Linked DNA regions of Homo sapiens: all the other regions are linked to region 1. Evidence: fine-mapped expression QTL. A gene starts in region 1. Each other region holds a variant in brackets. All regions are shown on one strand. Distances are from middle to middle. Region 1 holds the start of SBF2 (SET binding factor 2). Region 2 overlaps SBF2 (SET binding factor 2). Region 3 overlaps SBF2 (SET binding factor 2). Region 4 overlaps SBF2 (SET binding factor 2). Region 5 overlaps SBF2 (SET binding factor 2).

The links. PIP is the estimated chance that this variant, and not a neighbour inherited with it, causes the effect.
Region 2: its variant is fine-mapped to the expression of SBF2 in whole blood (INTERVAL, PIP above 0.99).
Region 3: its variant is fine-mapped to the expression of SBF2 in whole blood (TOPMed, PIP 0.91).
Region 4: its variant is fine-mapped to the expression of SBF2 in thyroid (GTEx, PIP above 0.99).
Region 5: its variant is fine-mapped to the expression of SBF2 in whole blood (TOPMed, PIP above 0.99).

What each region holds. Positions count from the first base shown.
Region 1 is chr11:10,291,657-10,298,196 of GRCh38, reverse strand. It overlaps SBF2 (SET binding factor 2), which reads left to right and starts at 3,978. Exons shown (of 40, transcript NM_030962.4): 1 at 3,978-4,182. The coding sequence starts at 4,128. RefSeq lists silencers at 3,841-3,890, 4,011-4,290, 4,321-4,400, 4,441-4,580.
Region 2 is chr11:9,968,593-9,975,132 of GRCh38, reverse strand. All of the region lies in intron 13 of SBF2 (SET binding factor 2), which reads left to right. Among named protein-coding and RNA genes, the nearest start is that of LINC02709, 210 kb to the right of the region's middle. The variant T/C (reference allele first, on the strand shown) is at 4,014.
Region 3 is chr11:9,855,726-9,862,265 of GRCh38, reverse strand. It overlaps SBF2 (SET binding factor 2), which reads left to right. Exons shown (of 40, transcript NM_030962.4): 18 at 3,870-4,040; 19 at 5,546-5,808. All of the region lies in intron 1 of LOC101928008 (a long non-coding RNA gene), which reads right to left. Among named protein-coding and RNA genes, the nearest start is that of LINC02709, 99 kb to the right of the region's middle. RefSeq lists an enhancer at 6,359-6,458. The variant G/A (reference allele first, on the strand shown) is at 3,975.
Region 4 is chr11:10,262,220-10,268,759 of GRCh38, reverse strand. The region is part of intron 1 of SBF2 (SET binding factor 2); the gene reads left to right. Among named protein-coding and RNA genes, the nearest start is that of SBF2, 29 kb to the left of the region's middle. The variant G/A (reference allele first, on the strand shown) is at 2,810.
Region 5 is chr11:10,252,493-10,259,032 of GRCh38, reverse strand. The region is part of intron 1 of SBF2 (SET binding factor 2); the gene reads left to right. Among named protein-coding and RNA genes, the nearest start is that of SBF2, 38 kb to the left of the region's middle. The variant C/G (reference allele first, on the strand shown) is at 3,522.

The sequences.
Region 1 (6,540 bases):
CTGGTCTTGAACTCCTGACCTTAGGTGATCCACCTGCCTCGGCCTCCCAAAGTGCTGGGATTACAGGTGTGAGCCACCGCATTCCATCTATTTCGTCTTCTAAAGCAAAAAAGAAAGGTATCTGCCACATACACATCATGATAGTGTTACATACCCTTCTTCCCTTCCTGCTCCCATCAGCCTTCAGGAAAACAAATCTGGGCTTGCTTTACTCTCTCTCTCTTTGGTGAAAGGTGATGGTGGTTATTGTAGGGGATGGTCTGGCTTTCAGCCAACCTCAGTAATCAGGCTGCCTTGTCAGGGCTTATCAGTTTCAACAGGCTGGCAGCTGTTGGCTGAGAAGCAAAGCACAGCTTTAGTGTATACAAAATATGTTCACATGTATATACAAACACACAGTGCCTTTCTACATGTACCTAGGATATGTTAAAATCTCTGTGTGACAAAATGGGCATTTGCAAATGGACTGGAAGTCTACTTATGACAGTAACAGATGAAATATGCCTAAAAGCAGAATAGCATTTGATTCTAGGCTTAAAAACAATAAACTTTGATTTTAAAAAATTAAAATAATTTAAATGAGTACTTGCAAATGAAATAAAAGCCAAGACATTTAAAAGGTAAAACAAGACCCCTTACCACTACAAAATTAACTCAAAATGGGTCAAAGTACTAAAGAGCTAAAACTATGAAGGAAACCAGTAAATCTTCATCTCACCTTTAATATGGCAATAATTTTTTAGATATAACACTAAAAGCATAGAAACAAACTAAAAAAGTGGACTTTATCAAAATTAAAAACTTTTTTGAGCCAAAGGACATTATCAAGAAAATGAAGTCTGGGTGTGGAAGCTCATGCCTCTAATCCTAGTACCTTGGGAGGGCTAGGTGGGAGGATTGCCTGAGGACAGGAGGTTAAGACCAGCCTGGGCAACATCATGATACAACATCTCTACATAAAAATAAAATGAAAAATAAAATAAAAATAGGAAATATTTGGGGGGGGGAATAGGGCATAACAATTTTAAAAAGAAAATGAAAAGACAACGTACAGAATGGGAAAATATCTGCAAATCATATATCTGACAAGGACTAGTATCCAGAATATATAAAGAACTCTTACAACTCAACCTCAAAAAGACAAAGAATCAATTAAAAAATGGGCAAAGGACTTGAATAGACATTTCTCCAAAGAAGATTTAGCAATGGCCAATAAACACATGAAAAGATCCTCAACATCATTAGTCTTTAGGGAAAGGCAAAACAGGACCACAATGAGATATCACTTCACACTAAGATAGCTATAACAAAACATAAACAACAGGAAAACAAGAGTTGACAAAGATGCAGAGAAATCAGAACCCTAGTGCATTGCTGGTGAAAATGTAAAATGATGCAGCCACTGTGGAAAACAGTAGTAACAGAACTACTTAATCCAGTAATTCCAATCCCAAGAATATATCCCCAAAATTGAAAACAGGTACTCAAATACATGTACATGCATGTTTGAAGCAGCACTATTCACAATGCCAAAAGGTGGAAACAACCCATATGTCCATATGGGTTGTTCCAGATAAACAAAATATGGTATATACATATGATATGGTTTGGCTGTGTCCTCACCCAAATTTCATCTTGAATTGTACCCCATAATTCCCACCTGTCATGGGAGGGATCCGGTGGAAGGTAATTGAATCATGGGGGCGGGTCTTTCTCCTGCTGTTGTGGTGATAGTGAATAAGTTTTATGAGATTTGATGGTATAAAGGAGAGTTCTGCATAAGCTCTCTTGTCTGCCGCTTTGCTCTCCTTGCCTTCCGCCATGTGGAACTGTGAGTCAATTAAACCTCTTCTCTTTATAAATTACCTAGTCTCGGGTATGTCTTTATTAGCACCGTGAGAACAGTCTAACACAATATACAATGGAATATTATTGAGTCATAAAAAATAATGAAGTATTGATACTTCAATGTGATGCTACAACCTTGTACTGTATCTGCCCGTAAACAAGCTGAGAACAATATACTAAGTGAGAAAAACCAAGACACAAAAAACCCACATATTGTATGATATGAATATGAAATATTCATAATAGGTAAATCCATAGAGACAGAAAGCAAAATGGTGATTGCCAGGGGCTGTGGGAGGGGAGAATGAGAATGACTGCTTAATGGTTGTGAGGTTTTCTTTTGGGTGATGAAAATGTTTTGTAACTAGATAGACATGGTAGTTGTACAGCATTGGGAATGTACTTAATTGCCACTGAATTCTACATTTTCAAGTGGCTAATTTTACAATATGTGAATTTTGCCCTATTTTTAGAAAAGTTGGGAAGGAATATGATAGCTGCCTTAAAAATCTATCATATGAAGATAGATTTTTTTTTTCTGGATAGTTCCGGAGAGCAGAATCAGGGGAAGTTACAGTAAGACAACTCTGAAATAATAAGGAAGAACTTTCTAACAATAGGGCTGTTAAACAGTGGAATGCGCTGCCTCCCAAGGAAGTAAGATTACTTTTTACTGAAAGTGATCAAGTTGGATGATGAGCTCTCAGGGAAGTTACAGAGAGGATTGCTGCACGGGGTATGACTGAGGTTTTTTTTTTTTTGGTTTAATTATTTTCAGGATCAAACTATCTTCCCTCCACGTTTGCAAATTCAGCTGATTCAGTTTTACCATTAGCAACTGACATAGAGGTCCTGGAGTTAAAGTATTCCTTCAGTTTCAGTTCTAGTGCAGCCCAACCCTCCCAATTTGTAGATGAAACAAGTGTGGCAGAGAAAGGGGAAATAGTAAATTACAGCAGAGTAAATCTTCAGGAGCTGAGATGTCAACTCTCTCAGTTCAGAGTTGGAGCCATTGCGGCTTCCTGCTGGTCGTTGGGGAAAATCGCACATTTACTCATTTAAAATATTTTGTAGGCACCTACTATATACTAGACGCTTTGCTAAGAGGCCTTGTCTTATGTGTAAATATGAAGGATCAAACCCTCAATTAATAGTGAGCAGTGATAAGCAACCACAAAGACAACTTCTAAACCACGGAGATTTCCAAAACTTTGGTCTACCACTTGTACAAATTCTACTAAAACTTCGTGAGATATTAACAAATGACAAAGTGAGTTCACCTGAATGTCACACCAGCCAAATTCGAAATGGTCAATAGGAGGTTCAACAAAAAAGCAAGCGACTTTGATAATCCCGAGACGGAAGGACGGGACCATCTATTCATTTTTGTGCATGTTTGAGCAGGGAAGTTGGAAGTCCACCTGCTCGGGCTGCGAGAGCCCTGGGACCGCTGCGAGGGAAGCAAGCCGAGGCGTGCGGGGCTCCCCAGGGAGAGGCCAGCCCAGTTCGGGAGGATCCCGGGGATGCCGCGTTCCTCGGTGGAATCTGGCTCTCCCGGGCGCTCCGGGGGAAGCCCAGGCCGACCGCCCCCGGCCCACCCGGCATTGAAACCCGAGGCTCCTTGGAGGATTGCGTAAAAGCCTCTCCCTCCCCCGTCTGCTCGGTGGCATGTTTCTAAAATTCCCATCTACACAACATAAACAGGAAACGTGCAGCAAAAGCCCTGTCGATGCAAATTCCTTGCTTCCAACCGAGGGCGGGAGAATTTCATCTTTGGTGGTGGTGGGGAGCAGAGGAAGCAGCCAGCTTTCCAAGTGACCCCTCAACTCTCCACATCCCTTCTTCCAAATCCAAACAGAATAGAGAAGGCGGAAGGAAGGACCCCCTGCTTTAGGAAAAATAGGGAGGCAGAGGGGGCCGTGAAGCAGCATCCAGGCCTCAAAGTGAACCACCTCCAGGGGCCGCGGTGGCGGCGCGTGGCGGGAACACGCCCGACCGCCCACTCCCCCAGCGCAGCAGTCCGCGAGGCCCGCGGAGGGTGGAGGTGGGCTCGCCGCCCGGGCTTGGGGCAGCCGAGCCAGCGCGGGTGGGGGCGGGGGAGGAGCGGGCACTAGGCGCCGCGCAAGCGCAGAGCGCGCCTCGGTTGTCAAACATGGCTGAAGCGCTGCCGCTGCCGCTACTGCCGCTGCAGGGAAAATGCTGAGCCCTCCCGGGCCGGGTGGGCGGCGGCGGCGAGGGCGGCGACGGGGACCCGCTTCCCGAGCGCGGCGGCGGCGGCCATGGCCCGGCTGGCTGACTACTTCATCGTGGTAGGCTATGACCACGAGAAGCCAGGTAAGGGTGTGGGGCGGCACCGCCCCCGGGCCTCCCCGCCCCCCGGCCGCTGTCCAGTGGGCTCCGCGGGGCCGGGCGTCGGGGACGGGCGTCGGGGAGGGCCAGGCCGAGTCTCGGAGGAGCGGGCGGTCGGCGTCCGGCCTTCTCGGCTGGGCTGAGCCTGGCGGTGGGCGTGGGGGGGCCGGCACGACGGTAGGGGGAGGGAAGACGCCGCGTCTGCCCAGCCCCTGGGCGCACCCGCTGGGCGGGCCGGAGGCGAGTTGGGGTCTCGCGACCCTCCCGCTGGAGGCTGCAGGGTACCCGGGGCAGAGAGAGCCCTGAGATTGGGCCCAGGACCGCAAGGCTGGGAGGGCGGGAGCCAACTGTGCTAAGTTCCTCGGGGATAAACTTCTGCCCTGCATCCTGAGTGAGTAACCAGTGACGCAGGGGGTTGTCCTCTCCGAAAGGAAGTGCTGAGAGTCCAGTGCTAACTCACCCCTGTGCTGTTGGGGGCCTAGTGACCTCCCCAAGGAACGCGTGGTACCAGGGAAGGGGACAGGATTCTTTGCACTTTTACCCCTTTCTAGGAAATGCTCCCTATTCTTTCAGGACAAATGTGACGGTCACTTCACAGTGACATGACTTGTCTTTTAACTAAGGACAGCCAGCTGACCGCTGAAGGTGATCTTGTTTCACTTTAATGTGTTTTCATTGTTCTTTTTATTTGTCACAGAATTTTCGTCGTAAGGAACAATTGGGCAAATGCATTGTATTTTACACTTTAATTGACGGACTTCCACAACTTAAGAGAATTCAGGGTTCATGCACGTTTATTTCTGTATTTGTATTCTCTTGTATTACTATGTAGCTAAGCATAATGTAATAACAAATTGAGCTGGGAAACCACTTCTATTTTAGGGCAATTCTAGTCCCACATTTGCAAGGAATTTGAGATATCAGCTCTACAGCCCCTTCATTTTTCAGAGATGCTGAGATTGTGTTTTCCTGATGGTTACAGCCATTGGTAGCTCAGAATACCATTGTTCTACCCACTCTTGGTCCACTCTCTCTTTCATTATTCCTCTCCTAAGAACTTCCTCTCCTTTAGTGGGAACCTTTCATGTTCTTTTCTCTTTCACCAGTCATGACCTGATTGAGGTCAATTGTTAAAGAGAAAGTTTAAATGTTTAAACTTCTGGATCCAAAATTTTATTTCCTAGTAATTTGGCATAGTCTGATGTTTCTTTTCTATCAAGATTAAGTGTGGGAAATCAGTTTTTTAACCTTTAGTTTTTAGTGACATTGTTCCGCCTCCCCCCCTCCCCACTTTTAAACAATTTTTTTTTTTTTTTTTTTTGAGACGGAGTTTTGCTCTGTTGCCCACGCTGGAGTGCAGTGGTGCGATCTTGGCTCACTGCAACCTCTGTCTCCCGGGTTGAAGCAATTCTCTGCCTCAGCCTCCGGAGTAGCTGGGATTTACAGGCGCCCGCCAACACGCCCGCTAATTTTTGTATTTGTAGTAGAGACGGGATTTCACCATCCTGGCCAGGCTGGTCTTGAACTCCTGATCTCGTGATCCACCGGCCTCGGCCTCCCAAAGTGCTGGGATTACAGGCTTGAGCCACCACGCCCGGCCAACAATGTTGAAACAATAACAGACTTGCAAAAAAGTTGCAAGAATGGTACAAAAAATTCTACCCGCCCCCCAACAATTTGAGAGGAAGCTGTTGACCTGATGCCCTGTCATCCCAGAATACTTTAATGTGCATTTTCTGCAAACAAGAATGTTCTCCTACATGATCACAGTGTAATAACCAAAACAGGAAATGGATAGTGATACAGTACTCCATCTAGTTCTCAGACTGGTTCAAGTTTTGTTGATTGTGCTAGTAATCTCTTTACTGGCAAAAGGATCCAGTTTAGCAATATGTGTTGCATTCATGTTATGTCTCTTTTGTCTCCCTCAATCTGGAACATTTCCTTTATCTTCTCCTGACTTTCATGACCTTAACATATTTAACAATTACAGGTCAGTCACTTTGTAGGCTGCCCCCTCAATTTGGGATTGTCTGTTCCTTCATGATTAGATACATACGAATATGCACGTGGGAAGGATATCACAGAAGTGATGCTCACTGCATCCTGTCAGGTGGTGCACAATTTCACTTTGTTTCATTGTTGGTTATTTTTACTTTGATTACTTGATATAAGTAATATCTGCGAGGCTTCTCCACTGTAAAGTTAATACTTAATTGTTTTTGCCATGTACTTTGAAACTATGTAAATATCTTGTTCCTCACTAAACTCTTAATCATTTATTGACATCTACATGGAGTCTGTGTGTGTGTGTGTGTGTGTGTGTGTGTGTGTGTGTGTGTT
Region 2 (6,540 bases), 320 kb after region 1:
TACAATATTTAACTGTATAGGAAACTGCCAAACTGTTTTCTCAAGTGTCTACGTTATTTTGCATTTTCACCAGCAGTATATTAGCATTCCATTTGTGCCACATCTTTACTAACACTTGGTATTGTCAGTTGGTTTCTTTTTTTCTTTTTTTTTTTTTTTTTTTTTTTTTTTTGAGTCAAAGTTTCGCTGTTGTTGCCCAGGCTGGAGTGCCATGGCACAATCTTGACTCATCACAACCTCTGCCTCCTGGGTTCAAGCGATTCTCCTGCCTCAGCCTCCCAAGTAGCTGGGATTATAGGCATACACCACCACACCTGGCTAATTTTATATTTTTAGTAGAGGCGGGGTTTCTCCATGTTGATCAGGCTGGTCTCGAACTCCCGTGAGCCACCCGCCTCGGCCTCGCAAAGTGCTGGGATTATAGGCATGAGCTACTGCACCCGGCTGGTTTCTTTCTTTTCTTTTTTTTTTTTTTTTGGGCGGTGTTGGGGGTGTCTTGTTTTAGCCTTTCCAACAGGTATGTGGTGGTATCTCATTGTGATTCTAATTTGTATTTCAGCAGGTGAGTGAGAGTATAGGACTGTTAGCTGGTCACTGTATGTTGCCTTCGTACTTGTGACAAGAGTACTTGTCTTAGAATAGGAAATCTCTATCTGGAGTCATGAATTAGAGCAGTGGTTCTCAACAGGAGCAACCCTCCCACCCTACTTCATGAAATTGGTCTGGAGACATTTTTGGTGGTCACAGTTGGAGGGACTGTGCTACTGTCATCTAGTGGATAAAGGCCAAAGATACTTCTAAACATCTTACAATACACAAGACACCTACTCTTTATCGCAAATAATTATCAAGCCCAAATGTCAATTAGTGCATAGGTTGAGAAACCCTGAATTAGGGCAACCAGCATATCAAATATTAAAGTCATCTACTTGTATTAAGGATAAGACATTCAGTTGAATGTCTCAGTCATCTCACAAGGATGTGATCCTTGAAAGTCCTATGAAGTTGGAAAATTGAGGATGAGTCATTCCATCAATGTCATGTACACTACCAGGCAACTCTAAAGAGTCCAGTTACGTTTTGACAATGTTTAACAATTTACTCCAGTGACAGTATTGCCATCAACTGTATTAGAAAAAAAATTTGTGTCACTTGCTATCCCACATAGCTCTAAGTATAATTTGTGCACGTTAAATAATTTCAAATACTTGAATTAATCTGGGAAACTTGATAAGCTCTAACAATATCATATTGATTTGTCTTTCAGTGCTGAGACCAATACATAGGAAAAATTTTCTTTTTCCCAAGGTGGCTGTTGCCTACTTTGAATTTCCATTGGGGTTTGGGGCTTTTGTTGTGCCTTGCTTTGCTTTTATTTGAAATTAGTTTCAAGCCTTGTATTCTGTAACCCCTAGGCATATTCTCACTTAGCCTACCAAAGCTGGGGGTAGCTGGGCGTGCTGCAGGGGGGAGGGGTGCTGCAGACCAGATGATGTGTGTATATGTCACTTTTTCATGTCTGAGAAAAATCATTCTACCTCGAATTACTAAAGTATACTCTTAAAGCAGGATTATAGAGACCATTCCTTGAAAATCATTATCCAAATTCAAAATGTAAAAGACAGTGCATTCTGCCAAACTCTTTTCAGTAGTTTATTTTGGTTACTTTGGAAAAAAATGTTGCCAGGTTCACTGTAAGTGTTTAGTTGTCTAGCCCTTGTTTATTACTTTATATTTGCATTTCTCTGGAATCAAAGATGAAAATTTGGCTGCTGCTTTGTACTGTCGGAAAATAACGGATTTCCTTATTTCAACAAGGAGATTCAACACAAAATTTGGCTGTAGCTTTTAATGAGCTTGGTGACGTTCAAGGGACCAGTCCAAACACATCTTGTGTTACAAGTAAAAGCAGATGTTTTTAAGTATATGCAGAATACAGTGAGCCCTACCCTAAACTTCCTCTCATTGCTATTGTCTTCTCAAAAGTCATTTCGCGACCAAGTTAGGTTCAAGGTAGCAAATGTGGTCCTTTACATTTATCATGCTGCCCGTTAGAGGGCAGCAGTATACAGACTCAGGAGCCAGAAAACCAAATATTACTGTATTCTGGGGCATAAGTCTTTTTCGAATCTTCTAAACACAGCTAAATATATCATAATTTAACAAAATCCCTAATCTGCATTTTGGTGTAGAATATCTATATAACTACAGATATTCAACTTTGAACTTTGTTTTAACATGATCTTTTTTACAAGCTTGTAAATTAATGCTTGTAATTCTAAATTGTGTATGGATTTGGTTTACAATATTTCTAATTGCTTCTGGGAAGACTCTATTTAAAACTTATTGGAGGGCTGGGCGTGGTGGCTTACGCCTGTAATCCCAGCGCTTTGGGAGGCTGAGGCTGGTGGATCACGAGGTCAGAAGTTTGAGACCAGCCTGAACAACATAGTGAAACCCCGTCTCTACTAAAAATACAAAAGAATTAGCCAGGCGTGGTGGTGCACACCTGTAATCCCAGCTACTTGGGAGGCTGAGGCAGAAGAATCACTTGAACCCGGGAGGCAGAGGTTGCAGCGAGCAGAGATCGCGCCACTGCACCCCAGCCTGGACAACAAAGTGAAACTCTGTCTCAAAAACAAACAAACAAACAAAAAACATATTGGATACTACTACTATAATTACTAAAATGTAAGTAGTTGGTAATGTGTTGGAAATCTTGGGAGAAAGAGATGGCTTTAGTTATAGAAGCATGGTACCATGCCATAGAATATGCAGAGAATAAGAGAATACATATTTTTTAAATGAATGTAGCCAAAATTTTTGGAAAACAGCCTTTAGATTCATTCTGGGGTGGTGTGTGTGTGTGTGTTTGTGTGTTCTAACAGCTTTACTGTAACAGCTCGTTCAATACTCATAAGAACCTTATGAAGTAGGTACTATATTATTATCTTCCTTACAGATGTGAAAACTACAACACATGGGGTAAGTGAATTGACACTGCACCAGGTCACACTACTAGTAAGTGGCCAAGCTAGAGTTTGAAACGAGGCGTTCTGAAATCAGAGATCATGAACTAAAAATACTTTGTTATACTACCTCTCATTGAATTGTCTAACCTTTCCCCCTGAATTGTCATGCCACCTATCTCTATCATATTTTCTCACATAGTCCTGTTTTGGGGCTCTCTATTCTATTCCATTCATCCTTTTAACCCTTCACTAATAACAGTTGTTGTACTGTATTAATTATTAAAGGTTTATGTAAGTTTTGATATCTGGAAATCTTAACTCTCCCACTTAACTCTTCTTCAGAATTTCCTTGACTATTTTTGGTCTTTGTATGTCCCTATGAAGTTTAGGATGAACTTACCAAATTATAGGACCAACTCTTTAGAGATTTTGACTAGAAGTGATATGTGCATCCTTCTTTTTCTTTTTCTTTTTCCTTTCTTGAGACAAGGTCTCACTCTGTCACCCAGGCTGGAGTGTGGTGGTGCAATCACAGCTCACCACAGCCTCCATCTCCCAGGCTTAAACTATCCTCCTCCCTCAGTCCCCTGAGTAGCTGGGACCATGGGCAGGCACCACCATGCCTGGCTAATTTTTTATTTTTTTGTAGAAATGGGGTCTCACTATGTTGCCCAGACTGGTCTTGAACTCCTGGACTAAAGTGATCTGCCCACTCCGAACTCCCAAAGTGCTGAGATTACATAAGCATAAGACACTGTGCCTGGCCAATGCATCCTGCTTTTTCTAAACCACCCCAAGTCATTTTTGGAAAAAGACAGAAGACAGATAATATAACAATAGAGAAAAATATATATATATAACTAGAAAAAATACTGGTGTTACTAAGATTATTTCTACTTTTATTTTTCCAAGTTTTAAATTTTATTATAAATATTTACTTCATGGGAAATATATTTAGAGTTTTAATTTTTATTATAAAGAAAATATAGATAGAAACCAAAGTAATGAATATACTTTAAATAATTCAGACCTCAAGATCCA[T/C]ATGAATTACCTGGCCAGCCTGAAAAAAAAGATACCTACCCAATATGTTTTAGAGAATTGATATTTATTATTTTTGGGAAGACAGTATATGAGTAAGAGTCATGCCTAAAGAACAGAGAAGAACAAAAACACTACTTTTTGAAAAGGGCAGTTTTAGACACTACAGGCCAGTGACATTGGTGTTAAGTCCAGACAGAATTGTAAAACACTTTTTCAACATTTGGTTTAGAAAGAGTGATTACTAAGAGTTGGACTAAGGATTTACTTACTTATTTTTCCCTGTCTTTGCTAGATATGGGGGGAAATACAGAGCATGTATGAGAGCTGCTTTGGCAAGAACAGATTTTAAATCTGATTTCACCTTCTGAGGAGCCTTATATAAGATAAGCTTAATTATATAACTTAGGCAAAGTTGTTTTCCCTGCATCACATAATAAGGACTAGAGCAAGAACTGGAACCCATGTGTTTTGACACTTACGGCAGTGGGAGGAAGCAGTGTGTTTCTATTATATTGCTGAGGCATACTAGCTATATCATCTGCCTTAGCCCAACATTTTCTTTATCTAGGTCTGGGCCATATAACCAAAAAGAATTGTGGGGAGCAGCCCTAAGAAGTGATGGCAGTTGGCCATTTTAAGTGTCAAGAGGATGTATGGGAGGCTGAGGCGGGTGGATCACGAGGTCAGGAAATCAAGACCGTCCTGGCTAACACAGTGAAACCCTGTCTCTACTAAAAATACAAAAAATTAGCCGGGCGTGGTGGTGGGCCCTGTTGTCCCAGCTCCTCGGGAGACTGAGGCAGGAGAATGGTGTGAACCCGGGAGGTGGAGCTTGCAGTGAGCCGAGATCACGCCACTGCCCTCCAGCCTGGGCGACAGAGCAAGACTGCGTCTAAAAAAAAAAAAAAATAGGATATATGGGATAGTATTGAGTTTAATCTACAGCATGAATAACATAAGTTCAGTGGGAATAAGGAATTTTCTGGTCGCAAAGAATAAGTGTTAGAATTGGTCAAGAATAGTTGTAAAGCAGCCTTCCCTAGAGAACTTTATGAAAGAATGGATTCCATTCTACCTGGAGTGTTTGAGATCTAATCCTGCTTAACTAGATGACTAAAAAGTTCATGCCAACCCAAAGAGTCTACAAAAATATTAGCTGACACATTTAATTCAATTCTTGCAATCCTTATGTGTGTTCAGCATTGTGTCCCCCTCATTAAGATGCAGTGGGAAGAGCTTTAGAGTGCCTGCTGTGTGCCAGGCAGTTTCTAGATGCAGTAGGTATACGTCTACTCTCATGGAGCTTTATTTTATGGAGAGAAGGATAGACAATAAACAAGTTAAATAAAATGTAAAGTATGTGAGAGAGTGATAAGTGATATAGAGAAAAATATAACAGGGATAGGGAGTGTGTTGGGGAAGAGAGTATAATTTAAGATAAGGTGATTGGGAAAGGTGGCTTTTGAGCTAAGAAATGCAAGAAAGGAAGGAGGATGCTGTACAGATTCATGGGGCACAGGCATTCCAGGCAGAGAGAACAGTTAAGTGCAAAGGCTTTGAGTCAGGAACAAGAAGTTCTGTGTGTCTAGAGCAGAAAAAAATGAAAGAAATCATGGCAGGACACATCATATAGAAAGGCCAGATCTTGTAGGGTGTTGTAAGTTGTTTTAAGAACTTTGGGTTTTATTGTGAGTGAGATGACAAGCCATTGGAATGAACAGAACGGTTATGTGATGAACTGACATACTCTTAACTAGATCACATAGTCTGCAGTGTTGAATGAAGGAGTACAGGTGGAAGCAGGGAGACTAGGAGACTGTTGTATTGCTGTAACGTGAGGTGTTGACTTGAACCAAAGTGTTGTGAAACTGGCCAAGTTGTAAACATTTTAAAGGTCAAGTCCACAAGATCTGCAGAGGAATGGATAGTTGGGTGTTAGAGAATGGCATTAAAGATAACTCTAAGCTTTTTGTCTAAATGATTGGAAAAAATAAATGTGCCATTTACTGATGTGAGGAAGACTGAAGAAAGCAGGGATAGAGGTGGGTGAAGATTAAGAGCTGCATTCTGGACATAGGTTTAGAATTTTTTAAAAAATCCAAGTGAAAATATTGTATAGAGAGTTAAACATGTGGGTATGGGGTTTAGGAGAAAACTTGTTTAAAGAAAAAAACTTGTGAATTGTTGGTATTTTTATGGTTTAAAGATAGGAGACTGGAAGTGATCACCAAGGAATGAATGTTAATAGAAAAAAGACCCAAGGACTGAGCCCTGAGATATTCACATTGTTAAGGGATTAGGGAGATGAGAAATAGACAAAGATGTAGCAAGAAGACCTAGAAACCAAGTAAAGAAAGTGTTCATGGAAGAGGAAGACAGATGCCAAGCTGTATCAGATGCTGCTGATAGAGCATGTAAGAAGAAGTAAGATTTTGGTACTTCATGTTTTATGGCGTATATATGAATGTATGTATAACTACCCAGCTCGTGTCCCTGTAAGCTCCCACTCCCTTCCTGGTGATCTGCC
Region 3 (6,540 bases), 440 kb after region 1:
GAGGGACACAGTGCTCCCTGCTTGTGGTTGACCAGACAAAGCAAGAAACCACAAAGAAAGAAGGCAAACTGCATGTCTAGAAAAAGAATAATATTTTAAGTATTTGGGGGTTAATGATTTCTAACGCACATATCAGGAGATCATTTTATCTGCAGGCACTTATTTTCTCTGTTTACTAAGACTACTGCCACTATCACAGATGCCATAGCCGTTTGTGTCTGTCTTGCCACCAAGTGTTTGTACTATAGTCACTTCACCCTGCTGTAATGCTCACCTAGTAAACAGGCTGTGGGTTCTGACCCTTTGGGCCACTGTCACTCTGTCTTGCACCGTTTTTCTTCCTTGGAACATATATAGTCCCACTTTTGCTCAAACTATTTAGATTAGTTTTTGCATATTCAACTTTTAGTTTGTGCATAAACATGAAGATACAGGTTGAGTATATCTAATTCAAAAATTTGGGCCACACTTGGTGGCCTAATCCTATCCCAGCACTTTGGAAGGCCGAGGTGGGGGGATTGCTTGAGGCCAGGAGTTCAAGACCAGCCTGGGCAACATAGTGAAAACCTGTTTCAAGAAACATTTTTTTTTTTTTTTTTTTTGAGATGGAGTCTCACTCTGTTGCCTAGGCTGGAGTACAGTGGCGCGATCTCAGCTCACTGCAACCTCCACCTCCCAGATTCAAGCAACTCTCCTGCCTCAGTCTCCCAAGTAGCTGGGATTACAGGTGCCTGCCACCACACCCAGCTAATTTTTGTATTTTTAGTAGAGACGGGGTTTCACCATATTGGCCAGGCTGGTCTTGAATTCCCAACCTTCAGTGATCTGCCTGTCTCAGCCTCCCAAAGTGCTTGGATTACAGGCGTGAGCCACTGTGCCTGGCCTCAAAAAACATTTTTTAAAATTAGCCAGGCATGGCAGTACATGCATGTAGTCCTAGCTACTCAGGAGGTTAAGGCGGGAGAATCCCTTAAGCCCAGGAGTTCTAGGCTGCAATGATCTATGATTGTCATCAGCCTGGGTGACAGAGTGAGACCCTGTCTCCAAAAAGAAGAAAGAAAATTCAAAATGCTCCAAAATTCTAAACTTGTAGTGGGCTGGCATGATACTCAGAAGAAATGTTCATTGGAGCATTTCAGATGTCAGATTTTCAGATTTAGAATGCTCAACCAGTAAATATGATGCAGATATTCCAAAATCAGAAACACTTCTGGTCCCAAGTATTTCAGATAAGGGACATTCAACCTGTAATGTCAACTCAAATGTGCCAAGGAAAGCAAATATACACCATCAGTGTGAAAAATACTGAAGAAAGGTGGGGCTTCATTACACCCTCAGATTCCTGTACATCTCTGTTAAGTTTTAATAAAAGATGTTTAATTAATAACTTTTTTGGCATGCTGATTATCCTAAAAGTACTTTGTGAGAATCTGATAAGGATTTGTTAAAAGCTCAGTTTTTTGGAGTTTATCTATATGAATATAATTTCAAGACTTCAACATTTTTAGAGTTGCCATTGATTATGTTATGCTGCATTTGTAAGAAATGGTACTGCCCTGAGTATACTCATGGTAAAGGCAGTTGAGAATTACAGTTTTATCTCATTTGAATTTAGTGCCTTTAAAATCTCTTTCAGGCTGGTCATGGGGGCTCACATCTATAATCCTAGCACTTTGGGAGGCCAAGGCAGGTGGATCACTCGAGCCCAGGAGTTCAAGACCAGCCTGGGAAATATGATGAAACCCCATCTCTACAAAAACCCCATCTCATCTCACTGCAACCTCCACCTCCCAGGTTCAAATTTTTCTACAAAAAAAAGCTACAAAAATTGCTGGGTGTGGTGGAGCACACCTGTAGTCCCAGCTACTACAGCTACTAGGGAGGCTGAGGTGGGAGGATCTTTTGAGCCTGGGAGGTTGAGGCTGCAGTAAGCCATGATCATGCCACTGCACTCCAGCCTGGGTAACAAAGCCAGACCTTGTCTCAAAAAAAAAAAAAAAAAAACTGTTTCAAAATAGGCTTGTGTACTGCTACTGAAACAATTGTTGGTCCTTACAGTAAAGGACTAAAAAATGAAGGAGGAAAAAGTGTGTAATCCATGTCCCAAGTGTCTTCATGCAGAGTATAGAAGGAGCTTGTGATTCAGTGTGTGTGGCTTCTGCTTACGCACTCACAAAACCACACACATTTTGTTCATGATTTCCCATAGGTAGACAGTAACTGTTTCTTAAATGAGCAGATAGGCATAATGAAATCCAACAATGATCCCTGTGCACCCTCAAAGAACTCCTGATTTTTGCTTCATAGCCACAACTTACAGCCACTTAATAGGGAGAATTGAGGTTATAGCCAGTTACCTCAGCAGCAGTAACACAGTCCTATCTTGAAAGGGTCTTACAGATGGCATGTAGTACACAGAGACTCTTTAAGGCAAAATCACAACCACCCAGCTTCTAACTACACAGGTACTACATTTCGTGGTATGCAGTTCTAGACCAAAAAGGAGATTAGCATGTATTGAGCGTGTAATTTTTACCAGATGTCTTATATATCTGGTATACGTCCCTAAGAAATGAACCAACTTTTGTTGTGTAACAGTTATATAACCTTAGTAATCATCTTCAGTGTCCAGCATTTCAGGAGAAGACACTCAGCTTATTAAATTGCTTCGAAAGAAAACTTATCAGAAACTTTAGTTCTACTCACAGAAAACAGATGAACTCAATTCCAAAGAATAAAATGGGCCAAAAAATGTTTATTGAAAATGGTACCTACTCTTTCTTGGAAAATTATGAATTTTTAAAAATTTGAAACATCCTTAGCTTTTAGAGGTGGCAGAAATAGTTTTGGAAAGTTGACTCAAGTCACTAACTGAAATTTGGCAATGTAAATTATCATTAAAATTTAAAATGCAATGTTATACAAGTTTTTTTCAGAGGTTCCAAGGTAGAATATTACTTTGGGAAACAAAATCATAAAGTGAGGGGAAAACAGAAGTGCTAATTGGCAGTTAATTTGGCATTTCATTTATTTTGATTTACTTTCAGTTCTTTTGAAAGACAATTTGGTGTTATAAAAAGAGCAGGGGTTTTGGAACTAAACAAACTTAAATATATATGAAGTGCCTTCTAAATGCCTGCAGAGTTCATTTTCCTTCCCTCTGTTGTTAATCACCTCTTAAGTTTACTCTTACGCTGAAACCCAGCAGGAAGTCCCTGAAAGGAAGGAGGTTTGGTTTGTGTTTATCTTTCCCTGCACAAATTTGGTTACCAGAAAATGCCCTTGAAGCCCAGGGCAGTCTTCTAGAGAGTATGTGAGCCAGGCAACAGCTTTGGCGGGGAGGTAATGGGCTGGAATGAGCAGTAGGAAAAGTGCAGTTCTCCTGAGTCCCTAATTCATGCTATATCCTCATTCTGTGTGTAAGGCCAAGCTGTAGGTTCACTCATATTTCAGTTGCTGTCTCTTTAAAAAGAGTACCCTAAAGCCATAGAAGAAATGTTAAATTATCTGGAGTTTTATGTTTACATCGTGATGGATTTTATTATATGCCCTAATTGTAATAATATTCACTAAACCTACAGTGCCTCCTTTTCCTGTATTTTCTAATTGATATAATAACAGCTTTGATTTTTAGCTGTTACTAAAATACCCATTTTGATAAAGTGACTGAGACTCTCAAGGATCCAACAGCAAGCCCACAGTTGCCAGTTAAAAAGGAGTAAGTTGCTGATTGCTAAGCCTGTACTACCATACGATATTCTTTAGAGAAATCCTTTGATCTCATCTATGATTAACTGTGGCCCCTGTGACCTTATGAACTGTTATAATTCTGCCAGCCCCATGATGATGTATTTTGTGTGTTCTCACAGAAACTTGCCCCTGGAGTCAGCCAGTTTGCTTACACGTGTGTACAAGACCACCCCATTTGGACAAATCAGCAATTTTGGGAGACAACCTTTTACAATGCAGTGCAG[G/A]AACAGGTTCGCTCCCTTTATCTCTCAGCCAAGGAAGACAATCATGCCCCGCATCTGAAGCAAAAGGTAAGAGAGAAGAAAAGAACTCTAATTGTGTGGGATTAGGATTCTGGCTTTAAGGAAAGCAGATGTTCCCAGGGCAAAAAAAACTCTAGCTACTTCCTGCCAGTGTATTTGGGTTTTATTTAGGGAGCCCTGTGATATCTTTCCTCTGTTGATTTCAGACATTATGTTTTTCCATAATAACTTCTTAATACAGTTCTTCAGCACTAGGATTGTTTTAATATACTTTAATAAATAAGAATTTCCTGGAAATGACTATAGGAAGTTGAATAGAAAGAACAAACCTAAAATAACAGGCATACTTCTCTATGCAACTAACTTCCCTGGAGGAATGTCAAATTAAAGTTAATTAACTCCAAAATAAATGTAAAATTTGGTAGTTGTATTAAAAAAATGCCAGTAATAAATCTAGGTCTTCTTCTAGGAATATTCTACATGTTTCTCTATGTTTTATCAGCATAAAATATTTTTATGAAAAATATCAAAAAAATTTAAAAATCAAGAAAATTGTTTTTAATTTGAAAGAGTAGTTTTAAATACTCTGAAAGTTTAAAACATCATTTACTAGCTCTCTGGTTTGGGGCAAGTCATGTTACTTCACTGTGCCTTATATCTTCACTGGTAAAATGGATATGATTATTATGAGATTTTAGTGTCTCATATATAAAGTGCATTGAAGAGTACATGGTATGCAGTAATAATAAGTGTTAGAAACTATCATCCTCATGAATTGAACTTAAAGCAGCCTTAACGGCTGATTATCATTCTACTCCAGAAATTTACTGGGCTTCGGGGGTGCTTTTGATCATTTTTTAAGCAGATGTAATGTTAATATTGACACATCTCGAAAGCATTCATAGAGCAAACACATGTCACTGCTTCTTTGTCAGCCATTCTAAAGAAGTCTATCCCGGAGCCAGCCCTAGGTTAGGTACAAGTGAGACCATAGACATACCAGCTCTTCACAAGCTATAAGGTGCTTTGCTGCTGCTTCCTGAGGTTTGTCACATAGTTCCACTCAAGGCCTGTTGGATCTGGGAAAGAAGACTAGGTTTTGTTTTGTGGTTGTTATGTTATGTTTATGTTTTCATTTTTGCTGATTTAAGCATTTAATAGAATAGTTATTTAAAACATCTATGTTAGGCCGGGCGCGGTTGCTCACGCCTGTAATCCCAGCACTTTGGGAGGCCGAGGCGGGCTGATCACAAGGTCAGGAGATCGAGACCATCCTGGCTAACATGGTGAAACCCCGTCTCTACTAAAAATACAAAAAATTAGCTGGGCGTGGTGGCAGGTGACTGTAGTCCCAGCTACTCGGGAGGCTGAGGCAGGAGAATGGCGTGAACCTGGGAGGCAGAGCTTGCAGTGAGCCAAGATCGTGCCACTGCACTCCAGCCTGGGTGACAGAGCGAGACTCCGTCTCAAAAAAAAAAAAAAAAAAAATCTATGTTTTTTAAGCTCACCTGAAGTGATGGTTCTCTTTTGGATTGTGTTGCTTTATTTTTTAGGATAAGCTTCCTGATGACCATTATCAGGAGAAGACAGCAATGGACCTGGCAGCTGAGCAACTACGCCTTTGGCCTACCCTGAGCAAGTCAACTCAGCAAGAGCTAGTGCAACATGAGGAAAGCACTGTCTTTAGTCAGGCCATTCACTTTGCAAACCTCATGGTGAACCTGCTAGTTCCACTCGACACAAGTAAAAACAAGCTCCTAAGAACATCAGCGCCAGGTGACTGGGAGAGCGGAAGCAACAGCATTGTCACAAACAGGTACCAAAATGTGAACACACAGACCCTCCTCCTACTCTTCTTGGGGCCAGTCTTGGCTTGACAGATAATATTAAACATTTTGAGCAAATACTGCTGTACATATTTCAAAAGTTAACCATTTTTCCTCACCTTTGGACTTGCTCAGCTTTTCTTTCTAAAAGATTCACTTCATCCTACTATTCTTAACCACTTCCCACACTTTCTTCTTTTTTATGACCTAATTTTTCCAAATGTCTCACCCATTACTGATCCAGCCCTTCAGTTACTGTCTGCCAAAGCAATTTACAGAAATCATTCCAAAGAAATTAGTGAGCACCTTCTTGCAAAAGTGGCTGTTTGTTTCTCAGCCCTCCTTTTCCTCAACCTTGTAGTCATACCCTCAACCATGCCTTCCTCTCTACCCTCCAGTAACTTCTCATACCACTGAAACTAAAACCCAGTGTTTACCATGGCCTGCAAGGCCTAACGGAATCCGTCCTCTGGCTACTGCTCTGACCCCCTATTTCCTATCACTCTTCTGTCAACCAAACTGGTCTCCCTGCTCATGCTAATCCTCAGACACTCCAAGCATATTCCTGCCTCACATCCTTTGTACTGGTATTTTCATTCTGGAATATTCTCACCTAAACAGGCCAAGAATCACTTCCTCACTTTATTTAGGTCTCTGCTCAAATGTTACTTGCCTCAAGAAGCCCTCCTGACTTCTGCATCTTAATAATACCTCTCCCTCTC
Region 4 (6,540 bases), 29 kb after region 1:
GAGAGCATGGCCCAAATATATCACAGTATGCTATCCGTAGAGAAACTTTTGAAACTGGAAAAAATGTCCTTTCAACAGAGAGACTACTACTTTTTTAGCAGAATGCTTTACACACTGGGAAGTAAACAATTATTTACTGATTGTTTATTGAGTAGACAGTTGAAGGGCTTTTGGTGATTTTCCTAACAGACTGAGTTAGGAGAAAGAATTTGTGTTGTTTCTGGAAAGGGCTATTTTCCACTGATGACACCATTCTATAAATGTCATCTTTTTCGTTGATCCATTGTAGCTTTTTGTGTACTGTATTAATAATTTACAAGGTTCACTAATACCATGATTTGAAGAAAACAAATTGTTTGGGAACTTGACATCTCTCTATTTTTTTTCTTCAAGCAAACATTCTGTCCTTATAGTAATTTAAAATATAGGTTTAAGAACTTAAAATGGAAGATTCTTGTTTAAAGAAAATAAGTGGTTTTGTGGCAAGTTTTTAAGTGGAAAAAAAAATCTGTATAGTTAATGACATCTGCTTGTAGGTAAAACTATGTCCTTTGTTTTTCCTAGCTTAAGTTAATTCTAGTAACATTTACAGAGAGAAATCAAGTGTCAGAACAAACTTGGACAATAATAGTATGAAAATTAATTCACAGTGGAAAGTAGCAGTTGGGACTGGAGTGAATTTTATAAATGCTTCATATACTTGTCCTACGCGGTCTTCTAGGGAATTTGAAAAGAATGTTACTTGTTTTTCTTTGGAGACAGATGTTTTACCAAATCTTAGCGTGAGTAAACCCAAATCCACATGAGATTGGAGTTAATAAAAGTCATTTTTTTAACAGGAGGAAAGAAATGAGAGGAACAACAGAATAAATATTCATTTAAGATAGTGAAACACTGAAGATTTTTGAAAATGTAAATTACTATATTACTAAAAAACCATATTACTCCCTTCTCCCTCACCCCCACCTTAAACTCCCTTTCACTGCTACTGTTCAGATTGTGTGTTTGAGGAATTTGGTTGTAGAAGAATAAAGTCTGGGTGTAGACAGTTTCGGGTTTGTATAGCCATCTGGACCAGGCTGCTTCTAGCTTTGTACTTAGCCACTCAGCTCCATCCCATCTATATTCCAAGTAGGAGTAAGACCCTGTCTCAAAAAAAAAGAAAGAAAAGAAAATGCAGCATGTTCAAGCATATCTGGCTCATTCAAACCTCTTCCCCTTGGCCATTCGCTCAAGTCAGAAACTTGCCACACTCCTTTCTCTCTCACCTTCACTTCAAAGTGTTGTTTTTTTTTCCCTCAAAATTTTCTCACATCTTTTTTTTCCTCTGTTTTCACAGTCACTGCCATAGTTTAGGCCCTTATCAGTTCTTACTCGGATTACTATAAAGTGCACTCTGTTAGGATAGAGGTTTGGCTTCCAGTAATAGGGACTTAAGTGTCTCAAACAATATAGAAACTTATTTCTTTAAAAGTTAAAGTCTGGGTGTAGACAGTTTCGGGTTTGTATAGCCATCTGGACCAGGCTGCTTCTAGCTTTGTACTTAGCATCTCAGCTCCATCCCATCTATATTCCAAGTAGGAGGATGGAGGAAGTAGGGAAGAAGAGATAGCCCCCTTCCCTTTTTAATTTAATTTAATGTAATTTAATTTAATTTAATTTATTTTTGAGATGGAGTCTCACTGTCACCCAGGCTGGAGTGCAGTGGCACGATCTCGGCCCATTGCAACTTCATCCTCCCAGGTTCAAGCGATTCTCCTGCCTCAGCCTTCTAAGTAGCTGGGATTAAAGGCATGTGCCACTACACTTGGCTAATTTTTGTATTATATTTTCGGTAGAGACGGGGTTTTACTGTGGTGGCCAGGCTGGTCTCGAACTCCTGACCTCAAACCATCTGCCAGCCTCGGCTTCCCAAAGTGTTGGGATTACAGGCGTGAGCAACCACGCCCGGACCCTCTTCCGTTTAAAGGCCAAAATCAACTACGTTTCCTTTGGCCAAAACTTATCCTGGGAAATGTGGTCCATATCCCTCATGTTAAAATTGGAGCTTCTGTTATCACCATCATCATCACTGTCATCATCATCATAGCTGTTAGGAAATAACTAATCAAGTGTAGACATCTCTTTATTTCCTTGCTTTCAGTTAAATTCTTCTCTAGCTAGTTCCATATTGCCACCAGAGTAATTTTTTTTTAAAAGGAATGTTTATGTCACTTTGTATTTAATCTTTGAGTAGTTTGCTACTAGCTTCAACTTCATACTCAGAATGTCTCACGGTATCTAAACAGTGTCAGTAGCAGAGGAAATCTGCATTTACCCGTATCTAGCCTGGGTCCTGTTGTCCTGCATGCAGGGATATCCCCTCCCCATAGTGATCAGTGTCTCCTAGTCCTTTACAGTCTCAGTGCTCTGTCCTTGGCCGAGAGGTCTTTAATTGCACAAATAGTGTCCTCTCCTCTGTAATTCTGCAGTGAGGGTCTGTATGAGGTAGCATGGCGATTGACTGGTCACAAGTAGCATTAAGTTCTAGCGTCAAACAACCTGAGTTTGTGCTTAGCCACCTATTGGAATGTGGCTGTGGACAAATCATTTAACTACAGAGCTGAGTTTATCCTCTGTAAATCTGGGATAAAAGTATGAGTAGTAGCTGCCTCATGTGATTGTTATGAGGATTAAATGAACTGATAAGCAAGGTCTTCTGCCTAGCCGAAAAAGTACTAAAAAAAATGGCAGGTTGGGCTGCCAGGCATGATGGCTCATGCCTGTAATCCCAGCACTTTGGGAGACCAAGGTGAGAGGATCACTTGAG[G/A]CTAGAAGTTCAAAACCAGCCTGGGCAACAAAATGAGACCCCCATCTCTAAAACACACACACACATGCGCGCGCGCACACACACACACACACAATTAGCCTGGCCTGGTGGTGTGCACCTGTGATCCCATCTACTTGAGAGGCTGAGGCAGGAGGGAGGAGTGCTTGAGCCTGGGAGGTTGAGGCTGTGGTGAGCCATGATTGCACCACTTGTACTCCAACCTGGGTAACAGAGCGAGACCCTGTCTCAAAAAGAAGGCAGCTATTATTATTTACATAGGTGCATATATGTTCTTCACATAAGTCCATAATATTTAGGCGTGTTTCACAGAATTTAAGCTGCATGTGGTTTTCATTGAGTTCTCTAGATTTTTTATATTGACTGTATGTTTGTATATTCATTGACATATTTTAAAAAGATACCCTGTGTTGATACCCCCCCACCTCTCCCCCCCCCCGATTTCTGCACTTGACTGTGAGCTTTTAAAGATAGAAACTGTTAAATTTACAAGAAAAAAACAACCCCATCAAAAAGTGGGCAAAGGATATGAACAGACACTTCTCAAAAGAAGACATTTATGCAGCCAACATGCATATGAAAAAAATGCTCATCATCACTGGTCATTAGAGAAATGCAAATCAAAACCACAGTGAAATAACCATCTCACACCAGTTAGAATGGCAGTCATTAAAAAGTCAAGAAACAACAGAATGCTGGAGAGGATGCGGAGAAATAGGAATGCTTTTACATTGTTGGTGGGAGGGTGAATTAGTTCAACCATTGTGGAAGACAGAGTGGCAATTCCTCAAGGATCTAGAACTAGAAATACCATTTGACCTAGCAATCCTGTTACTGAGTATGTACCCAAAGGATTATAAATCATTCTGCTGTAAAGACACATGCACACGTATGTTTACTGCGACACTACTCACAATAGCAAAGAATTGGAACCCACCCAGATGTCCATCAATAATAGACTGGATAAAGAAAATGTGGCACATAGACACCATGGAATACTATGCAGCCTTAAAAAAGGTTGGGTTCATGTCCTTTGCAGGGACATGGATGAAGCTGGAAACCATTCTCAGCAAACTATCCTAAGAACAGAAAACCAAACACCACATGTTCTCACTCATAAGTGGAAGTTGAACAATGAGAACACATGGACATAGGGAGGGGAGCATCACACACCAGGGCCTGTCGGGGGGTGGGGGGCTAGGGGAGGGATAGTATTAGGAGAAATACCTAATGTAGGTGACGAGTTGATAGGTGCAGCAAACCATCGTAGCATGTATATAACTATGTAACAAAACTGCACGTTCTGCACATGTACCTCAGAACTTAAAGTATAATAAAAATTTTAAAAATTAACAAAAATAAAAAAATAAATAAAGTAGGAACTGTTTTCTGCTCATTTTTTTTGTAGTACCTGGCAAAATACCTGGCACATGGAAGACCCTTGGTAAATACATATTGAATTAATATTGAATGAGCAATTATACTAAGATGGGATGGCAGCCTAGATGCTATCCTTCTGCTCCCATTTTCTTTTCAAGCATGCATCTCCCTATATAATCTTCCCTAAAAGAATTTTTAGTATACATAGGTGAGATCTTTATTATAACTCTGTCAGTTATTCTCAACATTTTTTCTAATGAGAAGCTGAGCTTTATTTCCCTGAAGTATTGTGAGTATTTGGATTAGAGAAGAAGGTGACCAAGTATCACTGTACCAGTTACTGATAGGAGTGGGAGGAAGATTATGGTTGCTGAGCATTCCTTCCCCATTATAAGGAATACTCAAGAGCTATAAAGAGGGCAGTTTGGCAGTAAAACCATCTTGGAATTTGATGATGTAAAGCTTGAAGATCTCCAAGCTGCCTGCTGTTGACAAATATTCCTTAGTAAGCTTTACCTAAGGCAGAAGCACATTCACATAAGCACCTTGGATTATCTTGTAGTTCTTATTTTTTAATATTAACTTTATAAATCATGAATATTTTTGTAGTTATCAGGTTATTGTTAAGACCTGTTTGGATAATTTTCCTCAGATAATGCTTGAATGATGGGATTTTTGGATATTGTTGTTTTTTCGTTTTTAAGTGGATAATTTGGACTGTTCAAGTGTTTCCTCACCTTTTCCGTAAGGATGTTCAAATGTGTTTAATATATTCCAGAGAGTTTAATTTCAGCCAGGATAAAGTTTTCATTTGATATGGTATATTCTTCTATGTCATTTTTCCGGGTGAATGGAGTTGAGTATTCTCTAATGTAGCCAAAGGCTTCTATTCTTAAGTACAGCAGAGATTTTATACAAACCCTTCACTTTATAAATAAGGAACCTAATGTTTAATTAGGTACTTATTAGTAGTAAGAGTCTCTGACTTATTTAAAGGTCAGAGTTTATTCTAGTAGAAGTTACTGCATGTCTCTTGATACTAGTAATTAACCTATTGTAGCTTGAATTAACCATAGTTATCATTAAGGTTTTAAGAAGACTGTAATTCATTCTCTTGATCATTCATACATGGAAGTCAGGGCAACCCCTCTAAACAGAAAGTAAAGTGTGGTTTCTTCCAGCATTATGTCATTATAATTCACACAAATTAAAAAAAAACTTGAATTTTTACTATATCTGATACTTCCAGCTTCATAATTTTTCTTTGGGGGATAAAAATGTGTAATTATTATTAAAACCATATAAAATATGAATAATGTGCTTATTTTCTTTTGTCTGAAATGTTGATTTATTGTGCTGATTTTTTTTATTTAAAAGGATAACAGAAGATTCTTGAATGATTTATCAATTGGCCTTCAATAGGTATAGAAAGAAGGTATCTATAAGGAGGAGATTTTAAGATTCTAAATGTATATTGTATATAATTTTTTAAAACAGGGAAGTAGTACAATTTCTTTAGGATTAAATGTTGTATTGAACACTGATAAAATATTTATTAATTTTAAAGAATGTCATTACTTGTTAATGCAAGTTTTTTTTTCGTCTTATATGGTAGTAAAATTATAGACTCCCTGAGGATCCTTTTATCCTCAGGTAAAGAATCTGAGACCTCTGGTGTCATAGCTCTTTGCAGAACATTTAGAGAAAGCATCAACCAATTATTTTTGCATAGATGAACTATTAAGTTGAATTCAGCAGGTATAGGATATTTCATTAATCAAGGACTCAAAAAAATCAAGGATACTTGGTTAAAAGTTTTTAGCTTTCAATGTGTGTGTGTAGTGTATGCATATACATCTATGTATTTACATTTTAGTTGACTGACAGTTGTCTTTTGGAAGTTACGGTTTATAAAATAAAATAATTTATACATACATAGAAAGCATAATAAACAGATCACTAAACTCTTTTCTACCCTCGCATCAGAGAGCAGCCCCTAAGAGGCTTATAGTCTATTTTATAAGGATGAGATGTCTGTGGAAAGATAATTATCATATTGCCAGGTGAGTGCTCTAGACAGTAAGACTAGGTTCAGAAGGCTGAGGGTGACAGGAAAGGGCTCATGGAAGTAGTTTATTTTGAGTTGCACTTTGAAGGATTGGATGAGGCTTTTTTTCCTCTACAACATTTGATTATGAAAAATTTCAAATACAACGAAGTTGAAAGAATTTATACCAAACGCCTGTATAGTACTACCTACACTTTGTACAATTAACATTTTATTATACCTGTTTTATCATATATTACTCCATCTGTTGATTCCTATATCATCC
Region 5 (6,540 bases), 39 kb after region 1:
TAGGTTCCCAGGAGCTACAACTAGCTCCAAATGTGAACAGAGTCCATCTCTTACTTTTCTCTATGCCTTCTCTGTTCCCTGCCCCTCATTTTTTCTGTTGGCCTTTGCTCTGTTCCTTTGCTTATTAGTAGTTTCTTACTCCTTTGTGATTTCCATCTGCTGCCCTATTGTCACTATATGGCTCTTCTGGACCCTCTGCTTTATTGTTTGTTTCCCATTTTTAAAGATATATCTTATTTGCCCAACTAATCTTTTTGAGGCAGACTATGTAGTGAATGGGCTATATTCCTTTGGTGCCTATTCTGTCCAGTTATCTCAGAATGGGAGTAAAGTTACATGATCCAAAACATGGTCACTGGCCCTCAGCGTGGCCATGACATTTTCACCTAGAAGTGGTGTATGGATGAGCAGTAATCATAAGATTTACTGATTAGTAACTGTCCTAGTTTAGTTGAAATTATCAAAGAAAAAGATGGTCATGTGAAATTTTTTTTTTACTAGATAAGCATTTTCTAAGGTGCATTCCACAAAACATGAGTTCCAGGCAATGGCCTGTGAAGAGTGGTAACTTCAGCTAAATAATTATGAGAAACTCTGCTTAATATCTTTACTTATTTACCTCTTGGCTGGGCACAATGGCTTATGCCTGTAAATCCCAGCACTTTGGGAAGCCACAGTGGGAGGTTTGTTTGAGGCTGGGAGCTTCAGACCTGTCTGGGCAACATAGAGAGACCCTACCTTTAAAAAATAAAAATAAAAAATTAGCTAGATGTGGTAGTGCATACCTATAGTCCTAGCTACTCTGGGGGCTGGGGCATGAGGATTGCTTAAGCCCAGGAGTTTGAGGATGCAATGAGGTTTGATCGCACCACTCATTCTAGCCCAGGTGACAGAGGGAGATCCTGTCTCAAAAAAAAAAAAAAGTGTGTGTGTGTGTGTGTGTGTGTGTGTATGTGTGTGTATTTATACCTCTTAGAGATTCATAGTTTGGATTGGCATGTTAAAAATTCTGATATGTCCTACAATATAGAAGTTTGAGCTCTGTTTTAAATTTATTTTTACTTATTTTTATTTTTTTGAGACAGTCTTGCTCTATCACCCAGGCTGGAGTGCACTGGCGCGATCTCGTTTCACTGCAACCTCTGCCTCCTGGGCTCAAGCAGTCCTCCTGCCTCTCCTGGCTAATTTTTCTAGTTTTTATAGAGACAGAGTTTCACCATGTTGCCCAGGTTGGTCTCGTATTCCTGGGCTCAAGTGATCCACCCACCTCGGCCTCCCAAAGTGCTGGGATTATAGGCGTGAGCCACTGTGCCTGACCAAGCTCTTTTTAGTACAGCATTTCTTTTTTTTTTTTTTTTTTTTTTTTTTGAGGCAAGGCCTCACTCTGTCACCCAGGCTGGAGTGCAGTGATGCTATCGTATTTCACTGCAGCCTCTACTTCCTGGGCTCAGGTGATCTTCTCACCTTAGCCTTCTGAGTAGCTGAGAGTGGAGGCACACACAACCATGCCTATTTTTTTAATTTTAATTTTTAGTAGATACAAGGTTTCTACTGATAATAGGTGATCCTGAACTTCTGAGCTCAAGTGGTCCTCCCACTTAGGCCTCTCAAAGTGTTGGGATTGCAGGCGTGAGCCACTGAGCCTGGCCTGTAACATTTCTTATGCCTATTTGGTCATAGAACTTTCTTACTGTATGATATCTCACTGCATAGTGTTTTGGGAATCATTGCATTAGAGCACATTGGAAGATTTTTTTGTGGGGAAAGAGGTAGGATTAGTCAATGCTATAAAATCCTGTTGATGATTGTACTTTGCAGTCATTGACAGTATGGGATAATTGTTAAAAACATGAACTTTGGCATCACAGAGATAGAGTTTGAATTTCAGTTGTGCTATTTATTAGATGTGATCTTGGATAAGAACTTAACCTTTCTGGGCCTGAGTTTGCTAATGCGTGATGTTTCCTGTCAAGTGCTTAGCTCAGTGCCTGACGTGGTGAATAATTAATAAATGGTGATCAGTAAAATTTACCTGTATTTTTACTAGGAAGTGTTTGGATGTACCAGTTAGTACAATCATTCTTCTATAATAAATAATTATCTTTCATCTGAATAGTTTCGTCTAGCATAATTCTTGTGTCAGACTTCGTTATAGGATAAATATGGGATAAATACTGGGTCAAAGGAAAATTTCAATTTAGAGAAAAGATTTTGATGAGAGAGATGCTATTACGTTTTCCAGGTCAGGAGTAGAAATTATGGGGGCTGGTGTGAGATGAGATTGCTGTTTTGGATCTGCTGTGAAAGGAGTATTGTGTATAGGGGTGACAGTATGAGACTATACCCTGGAGAGGGTAGGCCAGATTTTTAAGTCTGAATTTATCTAATGAGGATTTTGGTTTATAATCCAAATGTATATGGGCAAACAGTGCTCTTAGTGGAAGCTACAACCATAGCTCATTTCTGACTAATGCGGCTTCAAGGGCTTGTATCAGTTGTTATGCTTTGTTATGAAGCCATTCTTCTTTGCCACAATTACCTGGACCAGGAACTGGCATCAGTGATATATAGGTAGGCCAGTGGCTTATAGCTTGGCCTGGCCCAGGAACTCTGTCCAATAGCTCTGTAAATGATGAATTAAATCAATCTTATCTTTCTTAGGGAATTTCAATGTGAGATATCAGAGAATGTAGTAAGCAGAAGCTGCAGGACAGTAGAAATCATGTAGTAGAAAGAGAGTAGTTATTGTGGAGAGTAAAATAAAACTACAGTCATAATAGGGGCAGAGTTGGGAAGCTAAATTTTGACAATAATCAACCAGAATTCCTTCCTATTGGGAACCAATTTTATTTTATCCTGGCCAGTGCTGCAGTTGTCAGTGAAGCCTGATTGTGGAGATTTTTCTTATATTTTCATATTCCCCCACATTTTCTTATACTAAATTTTCTTTATGAAGTAGCTCAAATGAGTCTGCATATAGTTTGGCAATTGGAAAGAGCCCATCTCGTGTAATACACCCTGTAAGTAAAGCACAATAATTTACTTAGTTGATGTGAATGGTGTTGACTGATTTGACAGGTGGGAGCAACAGGGACTTTGCTTGTGGCGCTGTTGACCAGGGAAACATGACTAAAGTTGTGCTTCTTTCCTGTTTTGACATAGTTTCCTCAGTAATGGGGTAAAGAGACCTGGTTTTATATCTTTGCCATTCATTAGCTATGTATGATCTTAGGTAACTCTTAATTTTATGGATGACCATTTTCTTTCTATAATTTGAATTAGTCACACTGACTTTTTGATTCAGCAAAAATGCTTTTTTAGGTCATTGTTCATAGTATTTAGAAATGGTCAGAGATAATAAATGTGAAAAAGTTAGAAAAAGAGGAACTATTATGGTCAATCTAAGTAAACATTAAAATATTGATGCAGCTGCACTAGGAAAGCCTAATAGTGTTCAGTGTTGCTCTACCACTTTTGTTTATGTAAAACGAATATCTGGAGGATAATGTATCTTCACAGAA[C/G]TGACAGTAACTTATTTACTTTTGCTACCATGTGTTTCTGTTTTTTCTCCTTTATTTATATTTCAAATATTTATAACCATTTCCCCCAAAGAACTTGACAAACCAGTAGATTTGTTTTTCTTTTGTTTAAAGATTTTTATTTTTAATTGACAAATAAAATTTATGTGTGTTTATCATGTACAACATAATGTTTTGAAATATGTATACATTGAGAAATAGCTAATCTAGCTGAATAACATATACATTAACTTACTGATTTTGTATACTGAGAACACTTAAAATCTACTCTTTTAGTGCTTTTCAAGAATACAGTATATTATTTTTAACTATAGTCCCCATGACATACAATAGTTCTCTTGAACTTTTTCTTTTGGCTAACTGAAGTTTTATGTCCTTTGACCATCTCCTCAATCCTTCTCACCTGCTAGTCCCTGATAACCACCATTCACCCTCTGCTTCTGTGAGTTTCAGTTTTTTAAGATTCCATGTATAAGTGAGATCATTCTCTTCTTGGCTTATTTAATTTAATATCATGTCTTCCAGGTTCATTGATGTTTTTGAAAATAATAGGATTTTTTTTTTTTTTTTTTTTTTTTTTTTTTTTTTTTTTTGAGACAGAGTCTCACTCTGTCACCCAGGCTGGAGTGCAATGGCACAATCTCAGCTCACTGCAACCTCCACCTCTTGGGTTCAAGCTGTTCTGCCTCAGCCTCCTGAGTAGCTGGGACTACAGGCATGCACCACCATGCCCAGCTAACTTTTTTAATATATTTAATAGGGATTTCATCATGCTGGTTAGGCTGGTCTTGAACTCCTGACCTCAAGTGACCCACCCGCCTCAGCCTCCTATAATGCTGGGATTACAGGCGTGAGCCTCGGTGCCCATCCTCTTTTTTTTTTTTTAAAGGCTGAATAGTATTCAATTGTGTATGTATACCACATTTTCTTTATTCATTCATCTGTTGATAGACACTTAAGTTGATTCCATATCTTTGACTACTGTGAATAATGCTGCAATGAACATGTGAGCACATATATCGCTTTGAGATATTGATTCCCTTTTCTTTGGATATATACCTAGTAGTGGGATAGTTGGATCATATAGGTAGTTCTTTTTTTTTTTTTTCTTTTGAGACAGGGTCTCGCTCTGTTGCCCAGGCTGGAGTGCACTGTCACTGCAGTCTCGACCTCCTGAGCTCAAGCAGTCCTACTACCTCAGCCTCTTGAGTAGCTGGGACCACAGTCACACAGCACCATGCCCAGCTAATTTTTAAAATATTGTTATTTTTTGTAGAGCTAGGAGTCTTACTATGTTGCTCAGGCTGGTCTCAAACTCCTGGGCTCAAGTGATCCTCCCTCCTGGGCCTCCCAAAGTGTGGGGATTACAGGCATGAGCCACCATACCTGAGTATTTTTAATTGTTTGAGCAACCTCCGTACTGTTTTCCATAATAACTGTACTAATTTACACTCCTTCCAACAGTGTGTAAGGGTTCCCTTTTCTCTATATCCTCACCAACACTTGCTATTTTTTATCTTTTTGATAATAACTATTTAACAGATGTGAGGTAATATTTCACTGTGGTTTTAATTTGCATTTCCCATACTATTATCGATGTTGAATATTTTTTCATGTATCTTGTGGCCAGATTTATTTTTCACTCAGTGCTTACCTAGGCTTTTTATCTGGGATCAGCGTGATAAGGGGGCAGAAGAACAAAGAAGGCCTTTTTGTTTTTTTTTGGAGATTTGGAGATTCCTAATGTGTGAATTATGGTATTAATAACTGACAAACTAAATTATACTGTGATTCATTATAGTAATATCTCAGGGCAATTGAGATATTAAATTGAAAAATCAGGGCGGTGATTTTTCCTTTATGAGAAAAAGTGCCCCTTTTAGCAAAAAGTAATGCAGACTTCCCAAAAGTAATCATTGTAGTTTTGTATTGGTAGAGTCTGTGATTTAGAGATTCTTTGCCATAATATTCTGTTTCTCCACAGAATCAGGGATATATCCAGGAACAAAAAGAAATTAAGAAAAGCGTTTCCAAGCAGTTAAAATCACTGTCTTAAAGAGTACTAATGTGCAGACAGGGTTTACTTTTGATTTTATATAGTTCTTACGTCTATCTCTTGCATCTCCTCCCAAAAAGAAAAAGACAGGCTTTCAGAAACAAGTTGTGGCTCATTTCTGCTTTCCTTTCTCTCATAACTCTTTTTATTTTCATTATATTATATATGCACATAGTTTAAAAAGTCAGATCTGTAGAAGCATATTATAGAAACTAGTATTCCTTAACACTACGCTCTAATTCCTGCTATCATTTTTCTTTTCTCTAGAGGCAAATTCTGAAACTTCTAAAGCTGATTTTTTTTTTTTTTTTTTTTTTTTGGTATTTACCTCTTGTGTGGAGGTTGCTAGTTGTCTGTCAATATGTTTTTCCCATGTTAAAACTTAAGCTGAATTAAATCTAAAGGAGTTTAATTGAGCAATGAACAGTTTGCTAACTGGGCAGATCCCAGAATCACAGCAGATTCACAGAGACTCCAGTGCAGCCACGTGGTGGAAGAAGATTTATAGACAAAAAATGGGAAATGACATAGAGAAATCGGAAGTGAGGTACAGAACTGCTGGATTGGTTACAGCTCAGTGTTTGCCTTATTTTCTTTTTTTTGATTTTTTTTTTTTTGAGACAGAGTCTCGCATTTTTGCCCAGGCTGGAGTGCAGTGGCGCGATCTCAGCTCGCTGCAAGCTCGCTGCAAGCTCCGCCTCCCAGGTGCACGCCATTCTCCTGCCTCAGCCTCCCAAGTAGCTGGGACTACAGGCGCCTGCCACCATGCCCGGCTAATTTTTTGTATTTTTAGTAGAAACGGGGTTTCACCGTGTTAGTCAGGATGGTCTCGATCTCTTGACCTCGTGATCCGTGATCTGCCCGCCTTGGCCTCCCAAAGTGCTGGGATTACAGGCGTGAGCCACCGCGCCCGGCCAGCGTTTGCCTTATTTGAACACAGTTTTA